Linked DNA regions of Homo sapiens. The protein of the gene in region 2 interacts with the protein of the main gene of each other region in a biochemical or structural test. Each region holds a gene or a part of one and is shown on either strand. Other genes may lie near its edges.

Region 1 (7,990 bases), on a different chromosome or scaffold from region 2:
AGGGCGGCGCGCTCGGCCGAGGCCAGGTACTTCTGGCGGTGGAAGCGCTTCTCCAGCTCGCAGATCTGCAGGCGTGTGAAGGACGTGCGCGGCTTCTTCTTCTTGGGGGGCGTCCGGTTCTGATAGGGGTGACCTATACGGCGTGTTACAGTGAAGGGTGAGAGGGCCACTGGAGCGGGAGACAGACAGACGGCAGAGGCAAGCAGCAGAGCGTCAGGAAGCGTCCCAGGCCCAACACCCCGCGAGTCAGCGAGCGCAGCAGCTGAACCCCCACGAGCAGGGCCGAGATCCTCCCGTTAGCCCTCAGCGACAAGCCCACGGCGGGAAACGGCCTCCTCCTGCCCGCCAGTCCGACGCCGCCGTCGCCGCTACCACGGAGGCCTCCCTGGCCCCGGGCTCCCGCGAGCCCAACCACCTCCCTGCCGCCTCTCCTCCAGGGGCAGTCTAAGGCGAGCTAATGGTCACGCTCCCCTCCCCTCAGTCAGCCCCAGGCCTTCAGGCTCAGAGTAAGAGGCCGAGCCTGACTCTGGAACCCGACCTGAGCCTCCATCCACAGCAGCACACACCAACACAACGTACAACGGGGGCAAACTCACAGATCTATACACCCAAACAGGACCAGACAAGCACAGGCACGGGACAAGCACACAGGACACAGAGCAAAACAAGGCCACAGCCATACACTCGCTGAAACCGCCTTCATGCCTGACACAGTATTAGGGCCCCGCGGTAGGCCCTAAACCGAGTACCTTTCACCAGAGGCCCAGGATTAGTGGACTCCCGGCTGGGTTTCCAGCAGGGCCCTTCAAGACTGGCCTGGCCTGGGTGGGGAATGGGATGGGCACCAGGCCCTGCTGCCCCAGGCCAGAGAAAACTTAGGTTGGGGGCACTGGGACCCCTCTAGGGAGGGCCCTTCCTGAGGCCTAGACCCAAGCAACTGTTCTTCCTCTGGACACCAGCCTCCACACCACTTCTGCCGTGGCCCCAGAGTCTGGTAAGAAGCTGCAGAAGCAGTTTCCCTGGCTGTGCTGCTGCCTGGAACAGAAGCAGGAAGCCAGGGGTGCTTTGGAATCTCCTGGCCCAGTATCTAGCTCTCAGCAGCTTCTCCCAAGTAGTTATGTAAACCCCCCTTCCACTGTTGGGCCCTTGAACCGGGGGACCCCCAGGAGGCCCCATCTCTGCCAGCAGCAGCCAGTGCCTCCTGCCTCCTCTCTCTAAGATCGGCTGGCTAACCTGGGCTCAATTTGTGGCTGCTTCCCAGCCCGGACGGAAGGATCGTGGTCTAGGATCCAGGGAACCCTAAGGGGAGCAGAAAGTGAGAACGGGGGAAGGGATCCACGCCAGAGGGAGAGTTGAGTGCCCAGAGTGGAAACGGGAGCAGAGGGAGCCAGGGCCAGCAGAGGAAGGCGGGAGCGGGCAGCAGAGAAGGCGGCAGCGGCCACCACTTAGTACCCAATGTCCCGGGAGTAGTCTTCCCGCCACCGATCACCAGCCTACCGGTGCATTGTTCGTGCCCAAGATAACAGGGCTGGGCCCGGGGTAGGACACCCAGCCGGGAGAGAACGAAAATGAAAAGCTAGCTGTCCTGGGCGGCTAAGCCCCGCTGCCATCCTCCCAGATGAAGCCTGCTCTCCGGAAAAAAAAAAAAAGGCCACTGGTTCTGCTGATTTACCGGGGCTCAGAGCCCCCACTGGCCCCGCAGCACCACGGGCACCGGAGCTAGGGGCGCGAAGTGCATGTGTGTAGGGGACTGGAGGTGGGGGAACCTGTTCTTTTCTTGTGTCTGATCCTGGGGCTCGCTTCCTGGGTCCTAGAACAGCAGCCAGGACGGAAGAAACTGTTCACGTTGCACCCCTTTCTCTAAGATTCCCAGGCCAAGAGTAGCTGCAGAAGGTGGTCCTGAATCTATGGCCTCCTTCTCTCTGCCTGACCCGGCTAGTGGATCCGGAGAGGGGACCAGGGAGAGCTCCTCCGAGCAGGGGTCCTTCGGGAGACAGAGAGGGGTCCAGGCTGAGAGAACTCTTCAAGCATGGCGAGTCTGCGTTATAGAATCGGGCGGGCGGCTCAACTTGGGGGAAGCACCAAGAAGAGCTGGGCGACCTGGAGCGCAGAACCGGCTTTGGGGAGCCACCCGGCGGGGCAGGGGTAGCACGGAGCCCGGGCCGCGGCCAGGCGGGGAGCGCGCGGGCCGGACTCACCTGTGAACCTGTCCTTTGTGTATCTGCGGTTACTCTCCATCCAGGGGAAGGTGAGGCCAGTGAGGTTGTTGACGCCCGGCATGGCAGGCACAGAGGGCACGGTGGGCAAGCCGGTGGCCAGGGGCTGGGGGTGGGCCACGGCTCCGGCGAGCGGCCTGTGTGCCGGCACCCGGATTACCCCCGCAGCGCTGAGTGCCCCGGCACCGCCGCTGCTGCCGCCGCCGCCGCCAGGACCGGGGCCGCCTGCCAAGGCCATGTTCACGTTGTAGGAGCCGGTCAGAGGACCCATGCTGCAGGCGCCGCCGCCGCCTGCCGGGCCTCCGGGGCCGCCGGGACCTCCAGTACCATAGGCCCCCGCTCCTCCAGCCCCCGTCGCGGCCGCGGAGCCCCCGCCGCCGTAAGTGTAGGCGCCTCCGACCAAGCAGCCAAGGCCGTATTCTCCGTCCTGGAGGCGCGAGGCGGGTCCCATGCAGCCACCCTGGTCCGGGCTGTTGAGGATCTGGTCGATGCCGAAGCTAATGGGCTCTGCGTGACCCGGGTGGAGGTGGTGCGGACCCAGGTGCTCCATGCTGGCCCTGGCCCCACCGGGGGGCCCGGGCGGCGGCGCTCGCTGCGCTCGGCTCGGGGGGCAGCTAGCAGGGGCTGGGAGGCAACAGCGGCTCCTGGCTGCGCGGAGACTTGGAAGCGAAGTGCGCAGAAAGGCTAAAGTAGAAGGGGGAGGGGAGGGAGAGAGGGGGCGCCGTATTCTTCCCCTCTCTGGCTTCTGCTTCCCCGCTCCGGCTGCTCGCTCGCTGTTGACTCTGGGACATCAATCACCAGGCGAAAAAGCCCGGTGCAAGAGAGCTTCGCGGTTTCGACTGGGTCTCTCCATTGGCTGTGCGCGGAGAGGAGCGGGGTGAATGACAGCGCGAGGGAGGGGAGGGGAGGGGGAGAGGAAGGCCAGAAGCCGAGACAGATGCAGGAGCCAGAGATAGAGGGACGGAGACCAAGACTCGGAGTAGTTCATGAAGAGAGAGAAGAGGGGAACAAGGCGAGGCTTAAAAGGAAAAGGGAAAACAGGAAGCGACCATTCCCAGAGACGGACAGACAGACAAACCCAAGGAGGGTGAAGTCAACTGTCTTCCCGGCCTGTTGGGAGCCCTCCCCTCACTTTGAACTGGGCCAAAGGAGTCCAGCCCACAAGGCGTCTGAGGAAGGGATGTCTCTGCCCAACTGGAGAATCTCCTCAAGGGCTCAGCTGCGAAACACCTGTCACTCAACCAGGAGATTTACTCCAAATTTCAAGTCCAGCTTTTTAGAAAGTAGAAGACTGTCTACTCCCCAGGTATGGAGCCCAGGCCCTGAGGCAGGACGGTGAGTTCAGGCTTGCCCTTCTTTAAAACACAGGCCTATGAACAACTGGCTATATGTTATAAAAATCAGCAACCACCCCCCAACTCAGCCTTCTTAGACAAATTCAGGAAGGGAACATATCCTGAAAGGCAGGCACAAGTCAAGAGGGTTGGTTTGGGGTCTGCTGCCAGGGTGCCCATGCCTCAACATACCCCTTTGGTTTTAAATAAACAGATGCGTCAAGAAGTAAAATCCTACAGGGTTCGAAAGAGGCAATTCCTACAGTGTTTGAATGAATTCAACCAGATTGCATTCCACCTAACAATTACCCCAGGGTTGGCTATTCCAGACAAGAAGCCTTTGGACTGTGGTGTGTGTTCTTTTCTTACGTTTGGAATCTTGGGAGGGAGCCATAGGGGCTTAAGGCCGTGGGGGCTGGGATTGGTGGGACTAGGATCAGGGAAGTGCATCCAGGACAAATTTAGGCCTTTCCAACGTTTTGCCAGTGGCTGTCTGGCTGAGAGCCCAAGAGAAAAGGAGGAAACTCCCTTTTTCTTCTTCCTGTCTTTCCCCTCTCCAGTAGAAAATGTTTGCTACCTTTTAGAAGCCAAGCTTTGGGAAAGGCACAGGTTCCATCACTTGGGATCTATTTCTGTTCTATTTCAGTTCAGTTTCAGATTAGACTTTTGGGTAGGCCCTGTCTCTATCTGGAAAGATGCTAGGATGTGAAGACTCACATTCTCTCCCATCAAGTCTTATTGCAATCTATTTGCTTTGGGCATGTCTGTCACCTCCACTTGAAGAGATCTTCTTGGAGGCAGAGAGTGGCTTATTCATTTCTGTTCTCTCCTGAAGAATACAGCCCCAAACAACAAAATATGGTCATCTTGGGTGAATAACAAAGAATGTATCTCTTTATTCAATAATATTTATTGAGTACTGTACTCACTATGTGTCAGGCACTGTTCTAGGCATGGGGGACATAGCAGTGAACAAAACAAAGGTCCTGACCTCATGAAGCTTACATTCTATAGAGGGGGTCAGACAATAAGCAAAGAAGCAAATACAACAAGACAGATGTTAGTATTATGGAGAACAATATAAACTCTACACCAATCCTTCGAGATGAGTATTCTCCCTATTTTACAGATGTGAGGAAAGTACATTTCAGAATAGCTATGATTGGTGTGGATCAATATGGAGGAGCTAGACTCAACTTGCTTTTGTGGGTTAGCCTGGAAACCTACGTGCTGGTTGGAAGTTTGTATCTGTGGGGAAAACCTTGTCTGAGCTCTAGCCAGGTGGACAAAGGCCCACTCAAGACAAAGCCAAATGTGAAATTGGTAGTTGTTTGTAAACACTAAGCAGAAGGCTGGGCATGGTGGCTCACACCTGTAATCCCAGCACTTTGGGAGGCCAAGGCGGGCAGATCACGAGGTCAGGAGATTGAGACCATCCTGGCTAACACGGTGAAACCCCGTCTCTACCAAAAGTACAAAAAATTAGCCAGGCGTGGTGGTGGGCACCTGTAGTCCCAGCTACTCAGGAAGCTGAGGCAGGAGAATGGCGTGAACCCAGGAGGCAGAGCTTGCAGTAAGCTGAGATCGCGCCACTGCACTCCAGCCTGGGCAACAGTGCAAGACTCCATCTCAAAAAACAAACAAACAAAAAAAAACACTAAGCAGAAACATGAGAGGGCTCCGCTCCCTCGCCAGTTCTCTTCTTCCCACTTACCCAATCCAGGTACTCTACCCCTTCCCAAGGAGTTCCATAACTTACTTTGGAAGTTGTCTGAACCCGAATGAATCTCTTCCTGCCTCTTATCTTGAGGGAACTAAAGCAGAAATAAATTATTTATTGAAAGACAGTTTTGTGCCAGGTACCACATCATGCTTATCTCATTTAAGACTTATAACAACCCAGGCAAGTTAATAGAAATGTCCCAATTTTTTATAATTGAGAGAATTGAATGAATGTTCATGGCAGTATTATTCATGATAGCCCAAAAGGGGAAACAACTCAGATGTCCACCAACTGATGAATAGATAAACAAAATTTGTTATATCCACACATGGAATATTATTTAGCCATAAAAAGGAAAAGAAGGGAAATGCTGGTTCATGCTATAACATGGATGAACCTAGGAGACTATTCTGCTAAGTGAAAGAAGCCAAGCACAAAGGCCACATATTGTATGATTCCACTTTTATGAAATGTCCAAAATAGGCAAATCCACAGAGGCAGAGAATAGATTAGTGGTTTTCAGGAACTGGGGGCAGCAGGGAATGGAAATTGACTGCTAATGGATACAGAATTCCTTTTGGAGTGATGAAAACATTCTGGAATGAGATAGTGGTGATGGTTACATAACTTTTAAAAATATTAAAACCCACCGAATTATACATTTTAAAGGGGCTGAATATTATAGCACATGAATTATATCTCATTTTTAAAAAGAAAAAAATGGCTGGGTGCAGTGGCCCGTGCCTGTAGTTCTAGCAGCTCTGCAGGGTGAGGCTAGAGGATCACTTGGGGCCAGGAATTTGAGCCTGAGATGTGCTATAATTGCACCTCTAGCCTGGGCAACATAGCAATGCCCCATCTCTAAAAAGAAAATGAAAACTGAGACTCAGTAAAGAGAACAAACTTGCTCCAAGTTCCATAGACAGAGAAGATTGATCTGGAATCTCAAAATCTGAGCTATTTTCCTTGTTTGAGGCTGAAAACTATGGGGAAGGGTACTGCAGCTTTTTTTGAGGCTGGGTCCTAGTGGCCTCACTCCTTTTAGTCTCACCACAGTTTTACCTGCTGCAGTTAAAACCCCATCTTTTGGTGTGGGTTGGTTGAAGGTAAAATTTATAAAACTAAATAAAATAAAATAAAATAAAATAAAATAAACCACCTATCTTTCCAGGTGCACATCTCCAGCTCAGATGGCCTTCCAACCCTTTTGGCATTTGCCTGATCTACCTCTTGAACTCCTCAGATCTGGTATCAGTTGTCCAGGGTACCTGGGAGGAGACTTTACCATTCCTGGCCCAGCTTAAGGTTGGCAGAGTCACCACTCCCTTGTACATGGCCCACTAAGACTGTCAAGCTCTTCTCATTAAAATCCAGCAGCCCAGGGATATACTGACTTTCCCCTGCGATCACAGCCGCTTCCTTGACGGATTTCTTCCTTTTTCCCCTCCTACCTTTTTTGTTTATCAGAGTCAACTTTTATCCCAATTGGGGATACTCCCAACTTTTACCCTCAATGAGGTGCTGGGATTCTGTGAGTCAGCTTAATCCCAGCCTTTGTCTTCCAATAGGGTATTTACTGAGGGCCAAGACTACCCTCTCTGTCCCTTCCTTACCTAGAAAGATGAGACTGGAGGGTCAGGATTTGCTGGGCTCTGGCGCCCACCCCTTCTCCTGAGAGCAGTGTTACCTGAGCACGGTGTTGCAAGGTTGGGAAGTTTTCTGAAACAGGAGAGGAGACTCACACAAGTTTATATTCGCTGCAGCTTCTGTGTTTCCACCGTGCTTTTGCATGCCTTGCAAAACAGCCCTGATAGGAACGAGGAGGGAGGGGAAGAAAGCAGGACTCACAGAGCAACTGCCATGTGTGAGCCACCAGAATGATCTCTCCACTCATCTTTAATCCTGTGATGTGGTTTTTGTTATCCCCATTTTACAGATGAGAAAACCAAGGCACTGAAAGCTGGAAAGGGGCAGACCAGACGCAAACACTGCTTTCTTGACTCCACTCACTACAAGCTGCTTCCTTAAGCCTAAACTTGGCTCTTGCCTCACAGGACTATCTTGCAGGAACCTAGGTGAGTTGCAGATCCTTCTCTCTGGTTCTGAGGCCACCTGGTAACACCCCTCCCCCCAAGCACCGGCTCCCCCTGGCCTGCAGAATAAAAAAGTGCCTCCAATTAAAAGAAGAGCAGCTGGGGCCAGGGCCCGGGCTGGGGGAGGAGGAAAGGACGGGCTCAGCCCAGGGGGAGGCCCCTTTGGATCCCACACAATCTCCTCCTCTTCCCCGCTCTGAAAGAGACCCCCGGGCCAGGGGTTGTCCTTTAGCTTACGGATATGTGTGGAAACTTAATTACTTTGTGTTTGTGGGGCCGTGCATCCACGAGGGGAAAGCTGGATGGGAAAGCCTGTGTGACAGTCAGGATTGAGAGGGCTGTGCAGATGTCCTGGGCATGTCTTTAAGAAATAATTTTAACAATGTATTCAATGAATAATTATAGAGCATCTAGTATGTATCAGGCACTGTGTTAGGCTGTTGGGATACAACTGCAAGCAAAATGCATGTTGGGAAGAGTGTTGGAGGAAAAGAAGGGAGTCTGGGTATTTTATACAACTGGATTTTGTCATGTGAGGATGTATGTGTCAGTGAGAATGCAAGTGAATGTGTTTTCTGCAACAAGATGAGTATGTGTTTACAACTGTTCCTCTGTAGTGAGTGC
Region 2 (7,020 bases):
ACACAGATGAGGCGAAGTGGCTTGGGTGTGAATTTTCTTACTTTGTCAGGGGCTTTCTCATTATTGACCTTTTGTCTACTTGTAGATAATATCTCTGCAGCTTGAGGCATACTTGCACACACCGTGTTTACCCAGCAGGGAGAACTTCAACCCACTTTATTGCAGTAGCTACTTGACATATTTTGGCAGGGATTTAAAAACCAAAGGTTTTGAAAGGGACCAGCAATTGTAGGAGTAACTTAACAGATAGGATTTTCAAACCTAGAGACCGTTTGAGTTGGCAAAGATGGCACAGCCTATGCCTAAGAGTGAAGATTGTGCAAGGGCCGGATTTTGGTGGAGTACAGAGAAACAAACTGATGCAGGAAGGTAGGGAGCAGATGACCATGAGGAGGAATCAGTTAGAGGTTCTGACAGATTTTTTTCATTCTTGTCATCTAACCAGATAGGCACCAAGAAGAATGGTAGCTGAATGGACACCTTGTATTGTTCACATTATTCCTTTTCCCTATTAAATGCAAGGACAAAGCTTTTGGGTGTTTACCTAGATAGTTTATGGCTTTTCCAAATTGGTCTGTGTTTTTACTTGAAGTGCAAATATGTGAGGCAGATGTTAAAACAAGTGACATAATGTTTACATTAAGTTGCCTGTTTTGTTTTCCTAGCCTTAAATTGGAATGTGAGAAACTGGCAAGTGAAAAGACAGAAATGCAGAGGCACTATGTGATGGTAGGTATCAAAGATTGGACTTTTTCCTTTTTCATATGATATTAGCAAACGTGTTAGCAGAGTGTAAAAAACATGAGTTAATGAAATGCTTGATTCTTTTTTCTCTTTACAGTATTATGAAATGTCATATGGATTAAACATTGAAATGCACAAACAGGTAAGCTTTAGTTGAACTTCAAGCTGAAATGAGACATCAGTTCATATGATTTAATAATACTGGCTTTGTTCTCAGTAGTGGGCTCTAGGGGTGGGGGTTTGTATGCTATTTTTCTGCCTTGGTTTCCTGTCCTGTGGATTGATGGTAGTATTCTGCATCAAGGGTTGCTTCTTGATAATTACAAGTGTTTAAATGACTAGGAGAGGGAGAGGTGTTTTGGAAATATAAACTAGCCTCTTTATTGACAGATAGGAATTAAGACTTGAGTTTACTTTTTCACCTGTATAGATTTATCCTCTTGAAAGGGCTGGGTATCTTCTACAGTTGCTGAAGTTTAGAATAGTTAATGTTTTTGTGCTGTTTTGCAAGGAAGTGTGGACCTGTTGGGGGGAAAGAAGGGTATTCAGGAGTTTTTTTTAATCGTGGTAATCAAGGTATATGACTATCTGTGGAGTATTCTTTATGCTTTGGGGCTGCATGAAGCAATAGTCAGGATTAGTGGCTTATTAGCAAACAAATTTTTGAAAAATTTCTCAGTTGTTGCAGGTGTGGATGTGAAAAAAGCATCTTTTTATGGCCAGAGCATATGTTGGGAGTTGCTTCAGTCCTAGTGGTTTTTAAAGCATGAAAAGATTAGTGACTGGAAAGCTCTAGCAATGACTATGAGTTTGCAAGTTCCCATAAAATTCACACTTATGGCTACTATAATGGTGTATAAAAAGAGTATTGAGCTGGAACAAGGCACTAAGGACCTCATAAGAGAAGAAAAGCTAAATGATTGCTCAGCCCAAAGGACCCTCGATTGAGTAGTCATTGTCTGCCAAAGAAAGCATTAATGGCAGGGTGTAAGTATTCTGGAGATACGCTGACATTCACTTTTTCATCAAGACGCTGGTACAATAAGTCTTTTAGAAATCGATTGCCTCTTAAAAAATTATCATCAGATGAAGTTGCACAGTTGGACACATTTCAAAGTGCAACAATACAATTCTTACTTGATGTATATGTGCTATTTCATCTCAAACCCTTGTTTCATTAAATTAAAGAGCATGGCTGACCGGCTGGGGCACAGTGGAGAAATTGATTAGTTCAGCCTTCAGATCTTCCTTATATTCAAAGACTTTCATTAAGCAAGTGTGTTTCAGAGTTGAATTCTGCTTTTGTAACTCCGCACTCTTTGATTTTTAATTCATCATAGATTTCATAATGTTAAGTTATCGTGTACATTAGATCTGTTCTCAGATTTGTGTTTGGAAAGAGATTGTGATTTTCAGGGCCTTTTATTAATAATGTAATTGGGCCTTTAAAAATGCAGATTTTACTATGATTTACAAAGTTGGTAGCCTACTTTATGTTGGGTTTGTGCCTTTGTTTTTGTGTGTTTCTCAGTGGCTAGTGCCTTATTCAGGCACTTGTAACTTCTTGATAGTAAATGGGCTAGAAGATCTGTGGCTAACATCTATCGTCATTTAAGTGAATTATGCAAATAAACTTGGCCTAGGCGGTTTAATCTTTTTTTTTTTTTTTAATTTACTCTGAAGGGCACTTTTTTTTGGATAACAGATATTATGGAAGAGTAAGAGGAGACTGAGCTTTTTCTTAAACCCATAAACTCAAAGGATTTAATAACCTCATTGACTCTTTTACAAGGGAACACCACCTCAGTGTGATGCTATATGCTGGTGCTGGGTTTATTGGAGGAGCTAAAAGAGGTGTGTAATTCTTCTGGGTTCCTGTAGGTTATGTGGCGGGATGACCTCTTCTTTATCATGTAGGGAGAAGGGGTGAAGTGGGTCAGAAGCACCATGGTGTGAGAATAGTTTTCTAATGAGTTTCTATACAGAGTGAGGCATTTGTGGCTATATACTGTCTGTCCGTGAGCCTGTATGCATTAATAATATGCTGTGTATAATTGGCTTAGCAATTTGAAAAACGTGAAAAGCTGAGAGACACCATGTTCTTCATAGTAGGGTACTGAGCCTCCTGAAATTTAGTTGATATTGGAAATGCTGACAGACCCTTAACTAGAGTGCTGTGCAAAGTAGTGCTATAATTCAGTTTAAAGTGGACTTACATTTGAAAAACATCCTTCTGAATGTCACACATTAATAATAAGTTCTGAGGAGGCATTTGGTGCAGCTAGTAATCATAATTCTTATTAAAACTGGTGACGTCTGGCCCCCAGGGTGTAGCCAAGCTCAAATTGATGCTTTTTGCCGCCTGATCACCAGCATGGCCTAAGTGCTCATTATATTGTAGAGAGGGCCTTTGGAGCTCTCATTAGATTTGACAGGAATTCTCTCTAGGGGGAAACTGGGCATTAGCGAGACTCCTGACAGGCTGAAATTATTCCTGCTTTATGGCTTATAACCAAATGCTAGCAAGGCATCATCAGGGGACACAAAAAATTGTCATTTTTGACAACATCTTTGTTACTAAAAAAAAAAAAAAAATGCAGTGATGGGGAAACTTTCCGTACAGAGAGCTTTAATGCTGTTAAGATTTGTCTCCAGTGTGACGACCGCTCTCCCTTCCCACCTTTCAACGGGTTTGTCGGAGTGAGTTCTAGAGATTTCAGTGTCAAATCTCACTGCTGACTTTCCTGTCTGGAAGTTTTAAAGTGAAAGTGCATCCAAATCAAGAATGGTATAATTGTGGTTTCCTTTCCTGGTGTGGTGCCCACAGCCCGTGTTTAGGTTGTGTCAACACTTCCTGATAAGCCTTGCCTTTACTTTCTCTGCTCCCGTTTGTGGCGGGTTACCGAAAAGGCAATGAAACAGGAATGGTAATAGATACTTAAGTCTTTCATGGTAGCACTAAGAATATTTTTTTCTTGGAGCCCTTTATAGATCCCTGTCTGCCCATCTTTATCTGTGTGGATGGTAAACTCTAGATATCTCTATACAGTAGAGGTAGACAATGTCTCATGGAAAATTGAGGCAGTTCTGATACCATCAGAGTGTTAGGGTGCATTAAAAAACAGCAAGTTGATGTGAGCCTGGTGGTTTGCCTAGCTGTGCCTAGTGTGTGTGGTGGCGTGATCTTTAAATGTTTTTGTCTGTCATATGGTTTGATATTACCTCATTTGATATTTTTGGGAACAAGATGTACTGTAAATGCACACATAAACCTTATTTTAGCCCACTCATGTTATCTTTTCAGCATGCTGATGAAGCCATGCTATAAATTGTCATTGGTGGCTTTAATTTGCACAGTAATGAACAGTTTTCAATGTGATTTGTCTTCTGTGACCTCCATAGGCATCCTCCAGAGTAGATTGGGTAGGTGTTTTGCTCTGCCTACAGCTGTGTGCACGTGTTCAGAGTCTGGGACTTGCTCAAGGCCACGCATCTATTGAAGCTTGAGTTGGGTTGCCTCCTCCAGGGTTGTCTGTGCTGCTGCTGCTGCTTTTTTTTTTTTTTTGAGATGGAATCTCGCTTTGTTCCCCAGGCTGGAGTGCAGTGGTCGATCTCTGCTTACTGCAGCCTTTGCCTCCTGGGTTCAAGCAATTCTCCTGCCTCAGCCTCCGGAGTAGCTGGGATTACAGGTGTCCGCCACCATGCCCGGCTAACTTTTTTTTTCTTTTTTTTGTAGTAGAGAGAGGGTTTCACCCATGTTCGCAGGCTGGTTTCGAACTCCTGACCTCAAGTGATCCACCCACCTTGGCCTCCCAAAGTGCTAGGATTACAGGCATGAGCTACCACACCCGGCCTGTCTGTGCTTCTTCCTATCCCCTCATGCTGCCATCAGGAAGATGAGGTGGACCATGTCTCCCTAGTGCCTGCCTCTTCAGTTCTGACTCTTTGTGCTGATGAACTTCATGATTTGTAAGACATGTCAGGACTGAATGTATGTTCTAAAAGTTAGGAGAATCAGCAGTGCCGCTGACTGGTCTTTCTGGGGAGAGGAGGGTCACAGGCCATGGGTAGATAAAACTACTGAGCAGTACTGTCCTCAGGTTAAAGTATGTTTAAGAAGAAACAAGTCAGGAATCCTGGTGGAGACCCAGTGATGGGGAGGGAGTTTGATCAGTCACTTTGTGCCTGTGTTCTGCTGAAGAATGGGCAGAGTGAGAGCACTGGGCTCTCCAGGATGGTGAAGAATTTTTTTTCTTTTTTTTTTTTGCGCGACGGAATCTCGTTCCGTCACCCAGGCTGGAGTGTGGTGGCACAGTCTCGGCTCACTGCAACCTCCGCCTCCCAGGTTCAAGCGATTCTCCTGCCTCAGCCTCCTCAGTAGTTGGGATTACAGGAGTCCACCACCATGCCTGGCTAATTTTTTATTTTTAGTAGAGATGGGGTTTCACTATATTGGCTAGGCTGGTCTCGAACTCCTGACCTCAAGTGATTCCCCCCGCCTCGGCTTCGCAAAGTGCTGGGATTACAGGCATAAACCACTGTGCCCGGCCGATGGTGAAGCATTTAAAAATAAATGAAAAGACTAGCTCTGAAAATCTGAAAGGAAGGATGATATATTCTGCAATCCTGGTTGGGAAAGGGAAAGAGCTCCATGTGATATTTCAGCAAGCAACATCTCAGGCCATGTAAATTTTGGAGTGAAACTGCTTTTACAGTTTTGATGTGTGCTTTAAAATTTCTCTTAGAAAAATGCGTTGTTCTTTAGTGGGTTTTTAAAAAAGTATTTAGATGGGACTGTTAGGGACTCACCTGTGGGATATTTCCTTAGATGTGATTCTTTTACTCTTTTGCAAATTTTACCTTAGTGTTTTTTTTGTTTTTTTTTTTTAACCCTGTGTGTTTTTGTCTACAGTTTCTCACTTTGAGATTTTTTTTCCCCCTAAGTCAACATCTCACACAGGGAAATGACTAGCTAGAGTATAGGCACTTAGAGTTAAGCTCCAGCAGGTGTTAATAATCTTGTCATACAAAGAGGGTAGCTGTCATCAAGATTGGAGTGGTCCTCAACTTCATTAGCCAGGCCTGTTCTTTGCAAGCATAAGTTAAAAGAGAGAAAGCTCTCTGCATTTAGAGCCTAGATTCCGAGGTGCAAGATTAGCCTTTGTTTCTTATCAGCAAGCAGGACTGATCTCTCACCTCTCAGTCACCTTCCCCACCCTTCAGCAGTGGGCCAGTGGCTGGTTTTTGTCCTGGACTTGCACTGGAGTAAGGCAAGGGAGTCCCTGGGCATGGATTTTAAGAAAATCACAAAACATAGTTATCATGATCAATATTTTGAAAATTCAAACGGAATGCCCCCAAAATCTTCAAGGAACAACATGTCCAAATTTTGTATTAGGGCAGGATCCAACAGGGGGAGTTGGGAATAGGGTGAGGACAGGAGGTAGAGTCAGGCCATTGCAGGGCCACAGCACCTCCCTTGCCTCCCCCTCTTTCTGCCTTTGGTTACCTGTCCTGTGGGGAGTGGCCATGAACTATAGGCTCTGACTTGGTTCCGTTGTAGTTCATTGAAGTCATTTAATTGGGGATTTCCATTCGGGACTGGGCAAGTCATGAACACGTTCCCTGGCTTCAGTTCCCCTCTCTGTATAATGAGGGTTAGACTAGACAAAAGTCTGTTTGTTCCCTCGCATGGTGGGAGCCATCCCAGCATACACCCGCAGAACCCAGCACCTCGTGCGTGCAAATTGAGGAGCGTCCTTCGCCAGAGGACTTAAGATGTTCTCCCAAATAGTGTTTATTAAGAAACAGAAAGAAAATCTGTTTCTTTAGTAAATATTTAAATAAATCATCTTGAGTGGTAGTTAAACTAAAAATATATTCAGTTACTGGCTCATGGAACCATTTTAAGTTTCCATGGATCTGAGTCTTTGCTGTTTTATTATTAAACCTTTTGTGGTCTCCAGAAGTGGATTAAAGGGGAGGAAACTGAGAAACTTACTGGCTTTCCTCAAAGCTTTGATTGATTTCGTTTCCTACCCTCTCCCCTCCCCATTGCTTATTGTTGCCTCTGATTTTTAAAAATGGAAATTCTCACAACTAGTACCTTTACTACAGGGTATTTAGTATAGTGGTTTTTAAGTAAATTTTAGACAGCTGTTTCTGTCGGTGGGCTTATTTGACAAGAATAGGCATCTGTACCTTCAAAATACTCCTCACCAGAGGATTGTTCTGTGAATACGGTGTGATGTTTTAAGTGGAACTAGGATGCGCAGG
Region 3 (7,020 bases), on a different chromosome or scaffold from region 2:
CTTTCATCCACAAAGCCGGTGCTTAAAATACGCAGCCAAGAACAGGCCTCCCACATGCATGCTGAGCCTGCGTGACTCAGGCTGTTTGCGTTCAAGTCTCCTGTTGTGGGCTGGAGCGCTGAATCAGAGTCCAGATTTGCCTTGGTGACACATGACAAGAGGGGCCATTGCATTTGAACTACATAAATATTATGCTTAAGTGTTTTTCCTCATTTTGGAGCCAAACAGGTCTCGTTAATGATAAAATCACTGCAATATAGTGGGCCCTTTTTTTCTGGTCTGGAATTTGAGACAATGTCAACTGTGCCAAGGGGCCTGGCAGCAGGAAGAAATGGCCAGCCATGGAGATTTGCAGCCATCATGCAAGTTATACCATTTAATTTTATAATTGTAGCCATTGGGAGCTGGACTACAGTGCACTTCTCGTGGTCTGCTCTTACCCCAGGCTGCGGGAGTGGAATCAAGGGGGCCTCTTTCTAGTCTAGGATTGGGTCAGGGCATGTGAAATAGCACTTTATGGGGGCAGCGGGCAGGCTGTTTCTCAGTCTGGCTTTGGGGACATTTGGCAATAGGGAACAGAGGTTGTGCAATCGATCAAGGACTCTTTATTGGAACCATAAGGCTGAGGAAGCAGCAGGAGGCCATTGTCTTTAAAAGAGAAATGAATGGCCCAGGCCTCCTGTGGCTACCTCCCTACCTTGGAGCCTCAGCTTTGCACGACAGGACTGGCTCTGGTTTAAGGACATTTTGAGAAAACCGTAGGCCCCAGTCCCCCATGAGTGGCCTCTGCTTGCTGCTTCCTGGTGACGGTTGTTTTGGTGAAGAGCATGATGAGGACACTTGCTATCTATATAGACACTGAGGGGCCCACCATCCCACCCTATATAGACACTGAGGGGCCCATCATCCCATCCCACCAGTCCTGAGCCCCCTGGGGAAGCTCACCAGATAGGCTGTAGCTACCTCTGGGCTCCAGTGGGCCTATTCTGCTGGGAATATTGGACAAGACACAGGCGAGGCCTTCCTGTCAACTCCTCCTTAGGGGTACATGGGGGAGTCGGCTTCAGGGAAGAAGGAATGCTTGTGAAAAGCCTGTGAGGAGAGGGAGAGGGAGAGGGGCTGAGGGGCTGAGGATGCCCTGCGTGTACCTGGAAATGGGACCTCCCCAGAGGCTGTGGGTTTGCAGCCACGCCTCATTTCCTCTTGGAAGGGGCCCTACCACTAAGCTGCGGGGCCCACTTTGCCGCCTCTAAAACGTGCCAGTGGCTGGGTTTGCAGTAAGGAACAGCCGTTCTGATGCCCCTGGGAGGCCACCTTTCCTGGCTGCCACAGCATAGCCCCTGGCATGTGGCCATGTGCCAACAATTAATGCGCCTCTTTCCCTCCCGGCATCACCACCACCGCCAAGTTCTGTATCTCAGTGAGTTGTGCCCATTGGAAGTGGGTGTAGAGGGTTGGGGAGGGTGCCAAGGCCCAGACTGGGGGAGCACTCTGTGGCCGAGGCGGTGAAAGGGGGCCCATTCTGCTGAGAGGACAGTGGCCCCAAATTCAGCTGGCATATCTCTAGCGAGTCTATGTTGGGGTGAGGGGAGAGAGAGGGGAAAGACAAGAAAAGCCCCAGTTTTAGGAAATCCACAATACTTTTTCTGATCTCTTCCCTCCCTCCTTCCCTCCCCCCATCCCCTCCCCTCCCTGCTCCCCACAATAGGACATCGGCAGAAACTAGATGATCAGACCAAGCCCGGGAGCTTGTCCTTTTCCGAGCGGCTCAGTGAACTGGAGCAGCTGCGGCGCACAGCCATGAGGGTCAGCCCACACCACCCAGCCCCCACGCCCAACCCTCGTGCCTCCCTGAACCACTCCACTGCCTTTAACCCTCAGCCTCAGAGTCAGATGCAGGGTAAGTACCAGATGGAGCCCACTGCCCGCCTCTCCTGCACCTGGGCCACCACCCACAACTGGCCCCCATGTGCACACACCTTCCCAGACCAACTGGGGTTTCCCCTTGATGCTCAGAGAAAGGCCTCGAACCAACAGCACCACCTGGGAGCTGTTGGAAATGCAGAGTCTTGGGCCCCACCCACCCCAGACCCACCGAGTCAGATCTGCATTGTAACCAGATCCCCACAAGGAAAAGCACTGCTACAGAGGATACGAGGAGCTCTGGGTATGGATATCCATATTGGATAGATAGCTCTCTTGAATTTTTTAAGAGTTAGCTTTGGCTATGCTATTTTTTTACCTACCCATTAGGCTTGAAGACACACACGCAGACACACACACACACACACGTCAAGCAAAGTGAAGATGGGATGTTTCAAGTTCTCGCTATTGCCAGATTATTTGTGGGTTTTGTATCTAGTGTTTTTTTATTATTAAGAAATAGTTGAAATGTATGGATGTCATCACATCAAGGGTGTTATTTGCAAATCAATAGAGAATGCAGGTCCCCCCAGCCCATGGGGCTAGCTGGCAATTACTAAAGCGCTGTAAGATGCAATAATTGCCTAAGGCCCACTGTGCCAAATTAGATAATACAAGAAGTTCATTTACACTGTAGACCAGTGACGTCAATGACTGTTTGCTCTGTGATACCGTTTCAAAAATCCAAAATGCAGACTTTTCTCTGTGCCATGCAGGATGCAGCTGTGTGTGATATGGTTTACAGTAATATTTCTTTCTCAAAGTAGCAGGCTTGTTAAGGAAAAGATAAGCAACACATCTGGGGAAAAGGGCAGGTGGCCAGCAATCGATGTGGTAGCTCTTTGCCCCTCTCGGACAGCAGGAATTAGCTTCCCCAGGCATTTTCTGTATGTGAGTTGTATTGTGGGATGTACAAATATCATCTGTTCCTTTGGGTTTCCAGGCCAGTAGCTCTCTATTTTGGGTTCAAACATGGGTTCTCAGGCCGGGCGCGGTGGCTCACACGTGTAATCCCAGCACTTTGGGAGGCCAAGGCGGGCGGATCACGAGGTCAGGAGATGGAGACCATCCTGGCTAACATGGTGAAACCCCAACTCTACTAAAAATACAAAAAATTAGGCAGGCATGGTGGCGGGTGCCTGTAGTCCCAGCTACTCAGGAGGCTGAGGCAGGAGAATGGTGTGAACCCGGGAGGTTGGAGGTTGCAGTAAGCCGAGATTGCACCACTGCACTCCAGCCTGGGCAACAGAGCGAGACTCCATCTCAAAAAACAAACAAACAAACAAACAAAAACATGGGTTCTCAAAAGGCATGCCCACTGTCTCCCATGGAGCTTGACAGCCCATGCCATTAGCTCTCACTGTTAGGTTTCTGGGGAAGGTTCTTCTACTTGATTGGAAAATTTCCAAATAAATCTTTCCAGAAGATACTATGCACACAGCTAAGTGGCCTGTCTGTGGAGTAACCCTTTTGTAAACAAACAGAAACCTAAAGCTTGATGTTTTGGGGGGCTGCCTGTCATCTATAGGTTCATTTAGGTGTATTTAGGAAGAGGATCCATGAAACCACTGGTTTCCTGTTACATAATAATCATTAATAATGATTTAAAATGTGTACATTGATTTTTTTTAAATTCCAAAATACAAGCGTATATGGTAAATTAAGTCAAATGGTATGTTCAGTGAGCGAGATGGGCTTGGGGCAAAACAATACTTTGCTTCCAAAGAGGATACAACTCTCAAGGAGATTCTTTCATCTTGCCTTTAAGGTCATTTAAACTAATTCACATAATCTTCAGAAAACTAATTCACATCATCTATTCATGTGTAAAATCAAAAGGAAGACTGTTTTCTTAGTCTCTCGTTGCCTAACTGGCCATTTATACTACTAGGTTGATTAAGGGATTTGCCTTTTTCTGCTGATATGGGAACAAAAAGTCTTAAGCATTTTTAAAGGCAATGGAAAATTCAGCCACATGGGGGAAAATTGATATTGTCACCATTGAGTTGCTCTGTTTCTTGGTGAAGAGTGAATCTAATCTGATTTCCTTCTTCATCAGATATGCCTCTTTAACAACAAAAACAAAAAAATGGGGGGAAGTTGCACATTGAGTTCTCATCCTCTGAAGCTCCTGGGCAAAAGCATTATTGTGGACCGTGTGATGGGCATTCGTCAGCTCTTTGGAGACCTATATGCTTAGTAGAGTATCAGGTTTAACACTAAGCATCGCCCCTTTTTTGTTCCTCTTGAAAACTTTTACTTCTGCAACATTTAAGAAATCATAACTCGCTTTTAGAGTTCCTACGGGCTTGGTTGCTACTCTAAAGAATGTGTGAACTATATTGCTGGTGTTCTTTCTTTCCAAAATATGAATTTGATATTCAGTACTTCACTTGTAAAATTTTAGGAACAACTTTTAAAAAATAAGTATCCAGAATATTTTCATGTGAAACAACTTTTCCTTTTCCTTTTGTTCTTTCTTTCCTATAAGAAAACGCTGTTTTACGCTAATCATGTTTTGAGTAGACCCTTGGGCTTTTTCTCTTGAAATTGGAAAGTTAACAGGTATAATATGCAAGTCTTGTTCAGCCAAGACCTTCAGTTTGTTCTTGACAGTAGGAAAATGCTTATTTTCCAGGCTCAGCCCTGAAATTTCTATGTTATATTTACGAAGATACTTTAAGAAATACAGCATGTGTTTCTGGCTTTCTTTGAAATGGCAGTGGTAGTTTTCAGAAAAATATCCAATTTGTCAGAGTAGTTCCACAGTGGTGCTGTCCAGATGCATGAATGTTTTTCAGCTTTACAGAAATGTCAGTAACCGGGGGTTTGGCGAGCTTGCCGGGATTTATAGAAAGGCTCAGGAACCCTACCTTGCTAGGACTTTGTCAGAAGGGTTATGCCAGCTCCTCTGACTCTGTCAGCAAGAAAATACTGATATAGAATAGCACCAATACTTACCTAGAATCACATGTGCTGGAGGGTCACTCAAAATAGACATCTCAAATTATCTGAAGCACGGTACAGATTGAGAGGGGGCAAGTTGTCATGCCACTAAACCACTGTTTATTTGTTGGGGTCTTAACTATTAAAGGGCTGAGGTTTATTTCAACTTCCTATTTTACCAGGTCTTAAACTGGTAAAGCCATTTTGTCATGAAATAGAATAGAAAGCCATTTTGTCATGAGTAGACCCTTGGGCTACACGTTTCTCCCAGTCAGGACACCATCATTAACTTCTACGATCGAGTCTTAGAATTCTTTTTTAATTTATTTCAAAAGATAGAACAGGGCAGATTCTAGAGCTAGTGGTACCGATGCCTGTTCAGTCACAACTCCCACCTAGAGATGGGTTTGGGCAACCCGAGTGAGTGATTTTAAAATTTCACCCCTGATTGACCAAATATGATGTATCACATTTAAGGTGTCGTAATTTCCTCCTTTCTGGGAATATGAGGATGGAGTAATAGATGCTGGTACAGAAAACTGAAACCTAGATAAACTAGGAAGCCCATTTTGTTGTTCTTCTGCATGCTGGTTGTCATAAGCATGTAGGAAGAAGATTTAACTCTTTAACTGGACCAGTTGTGAGCTATTTTGACGTGGGTCAGACATTTGTACATATTATTCCATTCCCTCAACAATCCTGTGGTATCATTTATAGACAGAGAAATCGAAATTCAGAGGTTAAAAATTGCCCAGTATCTCAAAGATTGTAAGTGATGAACTTGGACGCAAACCCAGACCTTCCTTGCTACAAAGCCAGTGCAAGTGGGATGGCCGTTCCCTGGGCGTGCACTCTTGGGTCAAGGATCGATTTACTACAGGGCTGACCAGTGTCGAGAAGAATCCCAATCACCAAAGGAGGGATGGAAAAAGTGTTGGGCTATCCACTCACTTGGCATTCTTGTATTGAACATGTTCTATTATAATTAGATGTTGATAATAAGAAGAATTTTGGGGCCAGGCTGTGTGGTGGGCACCTTAATAAACTGTCTCCTTTGGTACATGTGCATTTGTTTATAAAGTTTGGGAGAAAAGAAAACTCAGAATAATGAATCTCTAAATAAGAGTGAAAGAGGGGGTATATGAGCAGGGAGAAGGCTTACCAGCCACTCTGTTTACTTTATTGGGGCCATTGCCTTCCTACTTTTGAAGTTCATTGGGACCAAGTGCTTATCATCCAAACCCAGTCAACATCTAATCCACTTTTATGAGTATGCGTGCCTCACTTTGAGTGTTCCATATGGCCAAGAGGGGTCCCTGACCTCTCAAATCATCTCTTGATTTTTAGTATTCCAAGTAACTTCTGTCTTGCTAATTATTTTCCCCCAAAATTAAAGTTACTTAGGAAGGACTATATTCTGGTGCTGCTGTCTGCAAAACTCTGAGATACTGAAATGACCCTGTTTCTCAGTTGTATAGAGTTATTTAAGTCCGTCTGATTCTCTCTTTATCATCTGGATAGACAAAAGGAAGAAAACCTTTCCACCTTCCTGTAGGAGAAGGAGATAAATCCTCTTTCCAGCCTTGGAGGTAAAATATCCAACTGCATTGCATTGCTTTCCTTTCTCTCTCCCTCTCCTTCCCTCTCTTCCTTACTCTTCTAGCAATTTGAAGTTTGAAAACAAAGGGAGTAGGGACTATTTGATTACCTTGAAAGTGGAGGCTACAATCAAACACCAGAAATCCTCATATGTGAATCTATAAATGGTCATTTAATGGTTACACAAAGTAACATATTCAGAATGTGAGAAATTAATTTATATAATAGGCTATAAACATGACAGGTGAATGATTTCATTTAAAAATAGCTTTTAACAAGGTGTAGTAGGGTATGAGAGCCTTTCCAGGTCTATAGCATTATAATCTTACCCCGACAACAAGCCTGAATCAGGTGTTCACAGGAATAAATAAAAATAATTAAAGGAAAGAAGGGAGAGAGAGAGAAGAAATGAAAACCAGTGGGATGACTGCAGAGATTCACTGCAGGGCTTGATCTTAGTGATGAAATATTTCTTCTGTAGACTGCATATGTTCTGAACTTTCCCCTTATGCTTGTAAATATGTAGGCCAGCACACCCATGCACTAAAAGGT
Region 4 (7,658 bases), on a different chromosome or scaffold from region 2:
TGACCTTTTCAGCTTGCTTTAAGAGGGTGCGGAGAGGAAACTTTTGGGTGCTAGGGAACGTCTTATTTGAACCAAAGGATTGGCTAATTAATGAAGACCCCAAGTCTTGAAGGAGGCGCAGCAGTTGGAAGTGTTTTTGCTTTGGATGCTGGTGAGCTACCCTGAGAGGAGAGCTGCAGGAACCACCCTTAACGTGCAATGGGCAATAGGATTGGATCCATTAGCTTCGTGAATTTAGTCCTGTTCAATCTTCCTCAGGAGGAGCTAGAAGAACAAGGGCTGCAGACTTACCCGACTGCAACTTAAAAACATTTTTTTTGGAAATCCTTTAAGAGACTGACCACAAGTTTATCAGGGAAGCCTTACCAGATGGCTGCTTGTAAAGTAAATGGAATTTAGTCTTTTTAGTTCATGGAGGATTGGTGAAAAGTTTGATGGATTTTTACAAATGTTCTTTTAATAACAAAAGAGTCAATTCCTGAATTACCAATTACATGTAATTCAAATTCCACCAAAAGCCTTTTTACATATTCTGGAAGAATCAGTTCGAAGACATAAAAGCCTTTACTTTTTTCTTTTATTATATTTTCTCAAATAAACTTCCCCAAAGGAAGATATTTTAAGAGCATTTTCAAACATCTTTGGCATCACATAAAAAAGAAATCTCGTGTAAAAAACGAAATGTCATCTGAGCTTTTATAATACAAAGGCGCAATCCAATATGAACATATAAAATATATACAAATATAGTGCATGGTCAGTCACTTAATACAGCTCTCTCTACAAAAAGTAACTTCTTAGAAATTAAAAAAACACAAAGTAACCACTTAATCAAAAAAGTCCTCTTCTCTCCCAGTATTCAAGTTCCTGTTTAGAGTCCGGAGGGAAGAGAGGTGGGTTGGGGAGTTTAGGAGGAGGGGTGGCCTGAGCCCCCTCAGTTCCGCCACGGCCTCCACATGGAGTCCGCCGTAAGCGAGGGGCCGCTGGAAGGTGACACTGCGTTGGGGCCCACGGAGGTGCCGCTGTTGCTGGTGTAGACGGGGATGACAGGGCCGCTGTGCGCGAAGGCCCCGTTGGGAATGAGGAAAGCAAACTGGCCATCGGGAGCCGGTACCACCTGGAAGCCTCCAAACACCTTAGCCGCCTCTCCAGCCTGGCTGCCCAGCTTGCAGGGGGCGCCGCCGGGAGGGGGCGCCGCGCCCCCGGGGATGGGCACGAGTGGCGGCGGCGGCGCGAACGGCGCGTGCTGGGGGCCGCCGGGTCCCGGTGGGGGCGGTGGCGGCGCCTGCAAGGCGGGGTGCGGCTGCCCGGGGTAGGTCATGGCATTGATCTGGGTCATGCAGTTGGCCAGGTGGCCGAGCAGCCGAGTGCGCACCTCGGTATTAACGCCCTCGCACGTGGACAGGAAGCGGGTCACCTCGTTCATGCACTCGCTGAAGCCGGCTCGGTACTTCCCCAGCACACTTGGGTCTGTGCTCAGCGCAGCTGCGGGCCAGAAAGAGACAGACGGGTCACCGAACGGCCCTGGCCCCGTGGCCACTGCCTCCGCCCTGGGAGGTCCCTGTGGCGCGCCTCCCTGACCATGCGCCCGTGAAACTGCCTCCGGCAGGGAGGGTGAGATGGGTTTAGAAAAAACCAGCCACCTCTCCACACTAGCGTTGCTGCCAAAAGCCGAGCCACTCCTTCCCGATTCCCTGTAGCTGCATTTAAACCTATCTCAGCCCCAGATCTGTCACCCCCACCCCCGCGCGCGATGTGACCTTGGACAATGCCTCCCAATCCATCATCCAAGCCTCATTTCCCCTTCTGCAACGGGAAGGAGTGCTAAACCAGTGACCCCCAGGCTCCACGCAGTTCCAAACCGCCACAGTCCTAAGTCCTTTCGCCCCTACCCGGCGCCCGCCACCCTCGCGGCTGCAACCTCTTTCCCTCCCTTTCCGGAACAGTAACAACTTGGAGTTGTGGCTATAAATAAGCCCCAGACCGTGGGAACGCAAGAGTGAGCCAAGGCAGTAAAATGTAGCTGAATGCCTCTCACAACCACGGGCGGAAGTCTGGAAGAAATCACCGCGAGGCGAGCGGGACGCCCGCACAGGGGGACGCGGCGAGCCGCCCTCACCCGTCATCTGCGCCCGCTGCAGGTTCCGGAGGTGCTTCACTGTCATTTCCAGAATGTCCGCCTTCTCCAGCTTGGAATGCCGCGAGCTCTGCATAGAGTAGGCAAGAAAGGAAAGTGAGCCCCGTGTCAGCTGCTTCAGAGTGCTGGGGGTCCCTCCTCCCGGCCACGGAGCGCAAGCATTATCTCTGGACCCCAGCGAATAAGGCCGGGCCCTCCCGCCTGGGAGAACGCAGTACCAGCGAGTGCCAGACCCCGCAGGGCGGGGGGTTTCACTCTTAGTAGCTGAGAAAGTGTTTGTTTTTTAATTAAAAGAGCGAGCAGCATTTCCCCACTTACATCTTTCTTCAGAGCATCCAAAATCAGTGTTTTCAGCTGGCTCAGACTTTCATTTATTCTTGCTCTTCGTCTTTTCTCCATAATAGGCTTTGATGACTGCAAATAAAAAAAAGAGTTCTGTGTTCCCATGGAATCTGCCATCCCGGGGTTTCAAGACAGAAAGAAGCCCCCCAACCCCTACTTAATTTTGAGGGGCTGCAAAGAGATACAGGTACCGCCCTTACCTTTCTGTGCTCAGATGCTGTCTTTGGTTTATCCGGTGTCGTGTTGACACTGGCTGGGGTAGCAGCCACCGGGGACGAGGAATTTTTCTCCATTATATCAGCTGGCATTTTCCTTTTTTTTTTTTTTTTATCTCTAGAGAATTTTATTTTTGGAGTTCTTCACGAAAAAGAATTTTTTGTTTGTGTCTCTTTTACTTGAGACTTTCACAAAACTACTGAGCAAGTGCTGAGGGTTTATTATATTTTGTGGCTACTTGGTGATCAGTAGCGCTGTTCCAGGACCAAGGAGAGAGGTAGACGGGGGATTCCGCTGTTATCAGCACCAGCTCCGGATCCTGTGTGATCCCTAGGCCCTGGCGGCCTCTATATATATCTGGGACTGCACGCGAACGGCTCGTGTGAAACTTCCCAAACTTTCTTTCCCACAGTAACTTTCAGCCAATGGGAGGAGGAGACACGCGGCACCGCTCGTGGACCGCGCCCCCCCATTGGCCGCCAGGCACAAGGTCTGGCGGCCAATGGCGCGCGCCTGAGCCCAGGGCACCGGAGGCTACAACGTCAATCAAAAGGATTTTAACCCTTTGCTACTCTCCCTCTGGGCTTTGGTTTAGAGATTTTTTTTTTCTTTCCGCTTTGGTCTTGATCTTGTCTATTTCTTTTGGAGCCAGGGTCTTTGCTCTTTATGCCCTCTCTCATATGTAACAGAGCTGCTTTGACTGTAGTAAGTTCATTTGAAACATATTTTTTTTAAAGGTATAAACAATAAAGAAAAAAACAGCAGTGGTTAAAAGGGGGCGGGGGGAGGGGGGGACGGGTGTAAGAATGTGAGTTACCGACACATCTAAAGTTCCCGCTCAGACTTTACATTCAGGAGGGTGAAAGTAGATGGTAAAGGAAAAGGGCCAAAAAAATTTTCCTGTTTCCATGCAGAAAAAGGAAAAATTGCCTTCTACCTCACAAATGCAGGTTTTTCGGAGCAAGGTAGTTCTTGAATCCCACCCCCACCCCGTCTTTCAGAAATTCCTCGTTTGGATTTGGGGCCTTAGACCCCGGGCTTCCCCAGGAAACAATCAGAATAATTTCCAACTGGGTGGAAGGAAACGGTATTTCAAATGAAAAAATGAACAAGGGGGGCTCCGAGGGCAATGACTCAGGGACTCGCGCCCTCCTTCACCACCCTTTCCCTTTTCATCCGTAGGCTTTAGGTTCTGCGGCGCGTTGAGGTGGCGGGCAAGGAAGCAGCCTCTCCCTCCTCGCCCCGCGGGCGGCCTCGGCCCCCGGCGCCCGCGGGCCCTTTAAGAGCTACACCAGCCGAGCTGCAGTTTGACATCAGCCGGCCGGCGTGGGCGCGCCTGGAGCCGGAGCACGTGCCAGGATGTTTTATTGCCGCCGCGGCTGCGGCCGGGCCGGGAGGATGTGTGTGTGCGTGCGTGTGTGAGTGAGTGTGTGTGCGCGCGCCCCGGGGGCAGGGAGGCGGGGGGCGGCGACGGGCGGCGGAGAGCGGGGGCCGGTTCCTGGTCCCCGGGAGAAGCCAAGAAGGTAAATAGCAGCTGCTGTGCTCGAGCCTGGGAAAACCCCGCCCCCTGCGCCTGGCCCGGGCTCATTGGCGCGCGCTGCGTGTGGGGGGTGTGTGTGTGTGTGTGTCCGGGGCCCCCTCCTCCGGCCCCGCCGGGCCAGGAATCCGAGGGGGCGGCGGGCTGGGAGCCGAGCCCCGGCGCTTACCCTCTCTCCCCACCCCCGCCTCCCCAGGCCAAGGTCAGCTCTTCCCGGCGGGGAGCGCACACCCGGGGTGGAGAGTGGGGAATTCTTCCAACCCCCGCCTCCCCACCCTCACTTTCGGGCTTGGGGTTTTCACTCGGCCGAAAGCCGCATTCGCAACAGCCCGGGGGCGAGGTGGGGGCCTCCAAGTTTGCTCCTCGCCCCCGCCCTCTCCCCGCGGGGCCCTGGGCGCCCGCCGCGGTCACGGGATGCCTGACCGCACTTAGGAAGCGGCCGGGTCAGCCTCCTGCCTCCGCTCGGCGACTGCGGTTAAAGCGGCTTCGCGCCGCCCGCCCCTTCCCCGGGTCCCGGGCGGCCGGGCCGCTCCCCCTCACTACGCCCGGGAGGCCGCCGGCGGGCGCCCGGGAGGAGGCGGGCGGCGCGGGCGGCTGCGTGCTGCCTGCTGGCCGGGCCGCGCGCCGGGAGGAGTCGCCGCCGCCGCCGCCGGGTGCCACGTGGCGGGCGCCGGGCCGGGAGCGCCAGGGCTCTGGCGGCGGCCTCCCTGGGGGATTTGCCGAGCCGGGCGGGCGGCGCGCACTGCCTGGGCCGGCCGGCCGCCTCCTCCGCCTCCCTCCCGCCTGCCCGGGTCGCCGGCCCCCGTGCCCCCACCCCCCCTCCGCCCTTCCCGCCGCCTGGGAGCTCGGCTCGCGGCTCCGGGCAGCCCGGGAGCCCAGCGTCTTGTTTGATGTGGCCTCCCGCCCCCTCAGCCCTTCCCGCGTCCCGGAGGCCTGGCGCACGGTTCTCAGACACTTCATTCCTTCCGGCCTCCCAGCTCCCCACTGAGATAACGTTGTCAATGATTTCGCCAGATCTCGTCCCGGATGAGATTCAGTGGTTCCTGACTCTGGGTGACCTTGGGCAAGCCCCCCTCTCTCTTTCATTGTGGAACACACGCGCAGTGTCAGACACTGTGTTAAACCCTGGGATTTCCACGGTGAGAGATACAGTGGCGGCCTGCTAGAAGTTGACAGTAAACTGCGGGGGCAGACAGACGCTGATTTTCTGATTGATGACTGGACATTCCTTTATTTTTCCTTTCTTTTCTGAGTTAGGTGGTGGCTTGAGAGATCAGGAGGACAGAAACAAAATATGAAACCATACTTGTATGGATAACAGTATTGCTGGTCTACCTGGGTTTACAGCAGTGAGTAAGACCGTTATTGCTCTCTGGAAGCTAACAGTCTAGAGATACATATAAACGTGTACAGCTGACATCTACGGATGGCCCAGTAAATTCCTCTGGGAAGTCGTAGGTTCAAGAGAGACGTATGTCTGGATAGAGGTAAAATGCTATGGAGTTTCAGGAGAATTAAGTTACTTTTAAGTTGGGGTACCTTGGAAAACTTCCTGGAGGGATTGGCCTGTGTACCTTGAAAAATAGGTAGGATTGGGGCATTGGGAATGTGCTTAGTCGTGGGCTGGAGAGGATGCAGGTACCCATGGTATTAAAGGCCAAGATCCTGGAACTTGAAGACTTTATTCAGGGAACATGGTCTGGAGCCTAGGGAATGTGAGGGACTGGAAGAGGCAGCTTGAGGCCATGTCACAAGCTCCTTAAACATCTTGCTGAAGGACTTTGGACCTTATCTTTAGACAGTGGAGAGCCATGAAACATTCTTGAGCAAAGAAGAGGCATCAGGGTTTCCCTTTAGAAAGATGGCTCTGGCAAAAGTGGGAGAGTGGATTGCAGGGCTTGGAGGCAGAAAGGGCAGTTAGGCAGTTCAAGCCAGTGAAGAAGGTTCCTAGGAGGCAGGTGCAGACTGACTCCCAGAGGCATCTGTCTACATCCAGCTCCTCTGGACATTGACCGCACGCTCTTGGGAACTGAGTTCAACTCAAACCTGCCTACCCTTTAATGCAGTGTTCCCAACCCCCAACCAGGAACTCAGGAACTCAGATTTAATTCCTGAGTCTAACTAAGGAATCATGGCTCTGACCGTATTAACCTAAGCCTCATTTCCACCTTCCAGGATAGTCCTCCAGTCTGCAACCAAACATTTCCCTCATCGAAGGCTTTGGTTTACTCACTGTTGCCCCTAAGGCTACTCTGAGATTTTTTTTAAAAAATGTTTTCTTACACTGCAGAGTGAGCTGTGCCCTGTCATGTTCTGAAGAAATGATGAACAATGCCTCCTTTGTTGACCTGCAACCTGGGCCAAAGGGGAAGGAATTTTCTTTCTTATTTTAAACAGATGGAAAAGTGGTGATGACAGAAAATTGTCTGTTGCTTTTGGAAAACGTAGGGTTTTCCTGTGTGGTGAAAATCCTCTTGGTGAAAGGTGATGAGCCTATGAAGTTACCCTCCTTTCTGCCATGGCCCCAATAAGCTTTGCAAGCTTCTTAAAATGCTTCTACTGAGCGTCTGACTTTTTAAAAACTTCCCAAATACACTGACCCAGATTCTTCTGAGGAACTAAACCCTTCCCGGGGAAGCATGTTAACCCTTTCCAGGTTCCCCCCAAATCTTTCAGAACCAGTGCCTGCTCTGCTAGGCTCTGCCAGGCTCTGCCATGACATTGACTGCTGTCTGCTGGTCGGCCCTCATTAACTACTGGGTTATGCCACTCCCTGCCCATTCTAAGAGACTTTTTCATCTGATTCTGTTCCCCACTCTTATTTGGTGCCCTGAAGGTGCATGGGGAATGGAATATGGTCAAGTTAGGGTCTCACTGAAGGGGCTAAAGCAGCCTCGTGGGTCAAATAGTTAATCAGCAACTCGTTTATTGCCACTTTGGGAGTGCTTGGACTGGTGGAATGGGCAAGTAACTTTCACACACACGTTTTTAGATAGGGGGACAGAGGCTCAAGTAACAAAAAAAATTATGAATTTGTGTCTGGACCAAAAATAAATAAATAATAAATAAAAATAAATTCCAGGAACTCTCTGGCTTTCCACTCTAACCATTCAAGAAGAGTTTCTTGCAGATGGGCTCACAGATGACTTTTCAGTTTCCTTATGCTAGGCAGTGAAAATAGGACCAACGTTGTCCTCTCCCCACCCCTTCTCAAATGGGACAGTAAGCTCCTAAACTCAGGAAGAAGCATCTGCATCTGGAAGAATGCTCTTAGATAGATAGAAACAGCCTTTATTTTTCAGTCATCCTTTTCCCCCGACTCCCAAAGCAAAGAGAAAATGGAGCCCAGTTCATCAGTGGAGGTCACTTCTTTGATCCCCCTGTGACACCAGCATCGTTCTGAATCGTTCTCACCGTGTCATGCCC

Evidence for each region.
Region 1: the proteins of TLE1 (region 2) and TLX1 form a complex in vitro, tested with the Homo sapiens proteins (one study listed by BioGRID).
Region 3: the proteins of TLE1 (region 2) and RUNX1 interact in far-western blotting, tested with the Homo sapiens proteins (one study listed by BioGRID and IntAct).
Region 4: the proteins of TLE1 (region 2) and HES1 form a complex in vitro, tested with the Homo sapiens proteins (one study listed by BioGRID).

The regions. Positions count from the first base shown.
Region 1 is NC_000010.11:101,126,318-101,134,307, reverse strand, and holds the start of TLX1 (T-cell leukemia homeobox protein 1), read right to left. Parts: upstream 3,009-7,990; 5' UTR 2,767-3,008; coding exon 2,199-2,766; intron 170-2,198; coding exon of another isoform or gene 134-169; coding exon 1-133. UniProt on the Homo sapiens protein: Controls the genesis of the spleen. Binds to the DNA sequence 5'-GGCGGTAAGTGG-3'.
Region 2 is NC_000009.12:81,679,542-81,686,561, reverse strand, and holds part of TLE1 (transducin-like enhancer protein 1), read left to right. Parts: intron 1-665; coding exon 666-729; intron 730-841; coding exon 842-886; intron 887-7,020. UniProt on the Homo sapiens protein: Transcriptional corepressor that binds to a number of transcription factors. Inhibits NF-kappa-B-regulated gene expression. Inhibits the transcriptional activation mediated by FOXA2, and by CTNNB1 and TCF family members in Wnt signaling.
Region 3 is NC_000021.9:34,829,290-34,836,309, reverse strand, and holds part of RUNX1 (runt-related transcription factor 1), read left to right. Parts: intron 1-1,708; coding exon 1,709-1,900; intron 1,901-7,020.
Region 4 is NC_000003.12:194,131,510-194,139,167, reverse strand, and holds HES1 (transcription factor HES-1), read right to left. Parts: upstream 3,021-7,658; 5' UTR 2,788-3,020; coding exon 2,680-2,787; intron 2,552-2,679; coding exon 2,456-2,551; intron 2,208-2,455; coding exon 2,120-2,207; intron 1,486-2,119; coding exon 935-1,485; 3' UTR 436-934; downstream 1-435. UniProt on the Homo sapiens protein: Transcriptional repressor of genes that require a bHLH protein for their transcription. May act as a negative regulator of myogenesis by inhibiting the functions of MYOD1 and ASH1.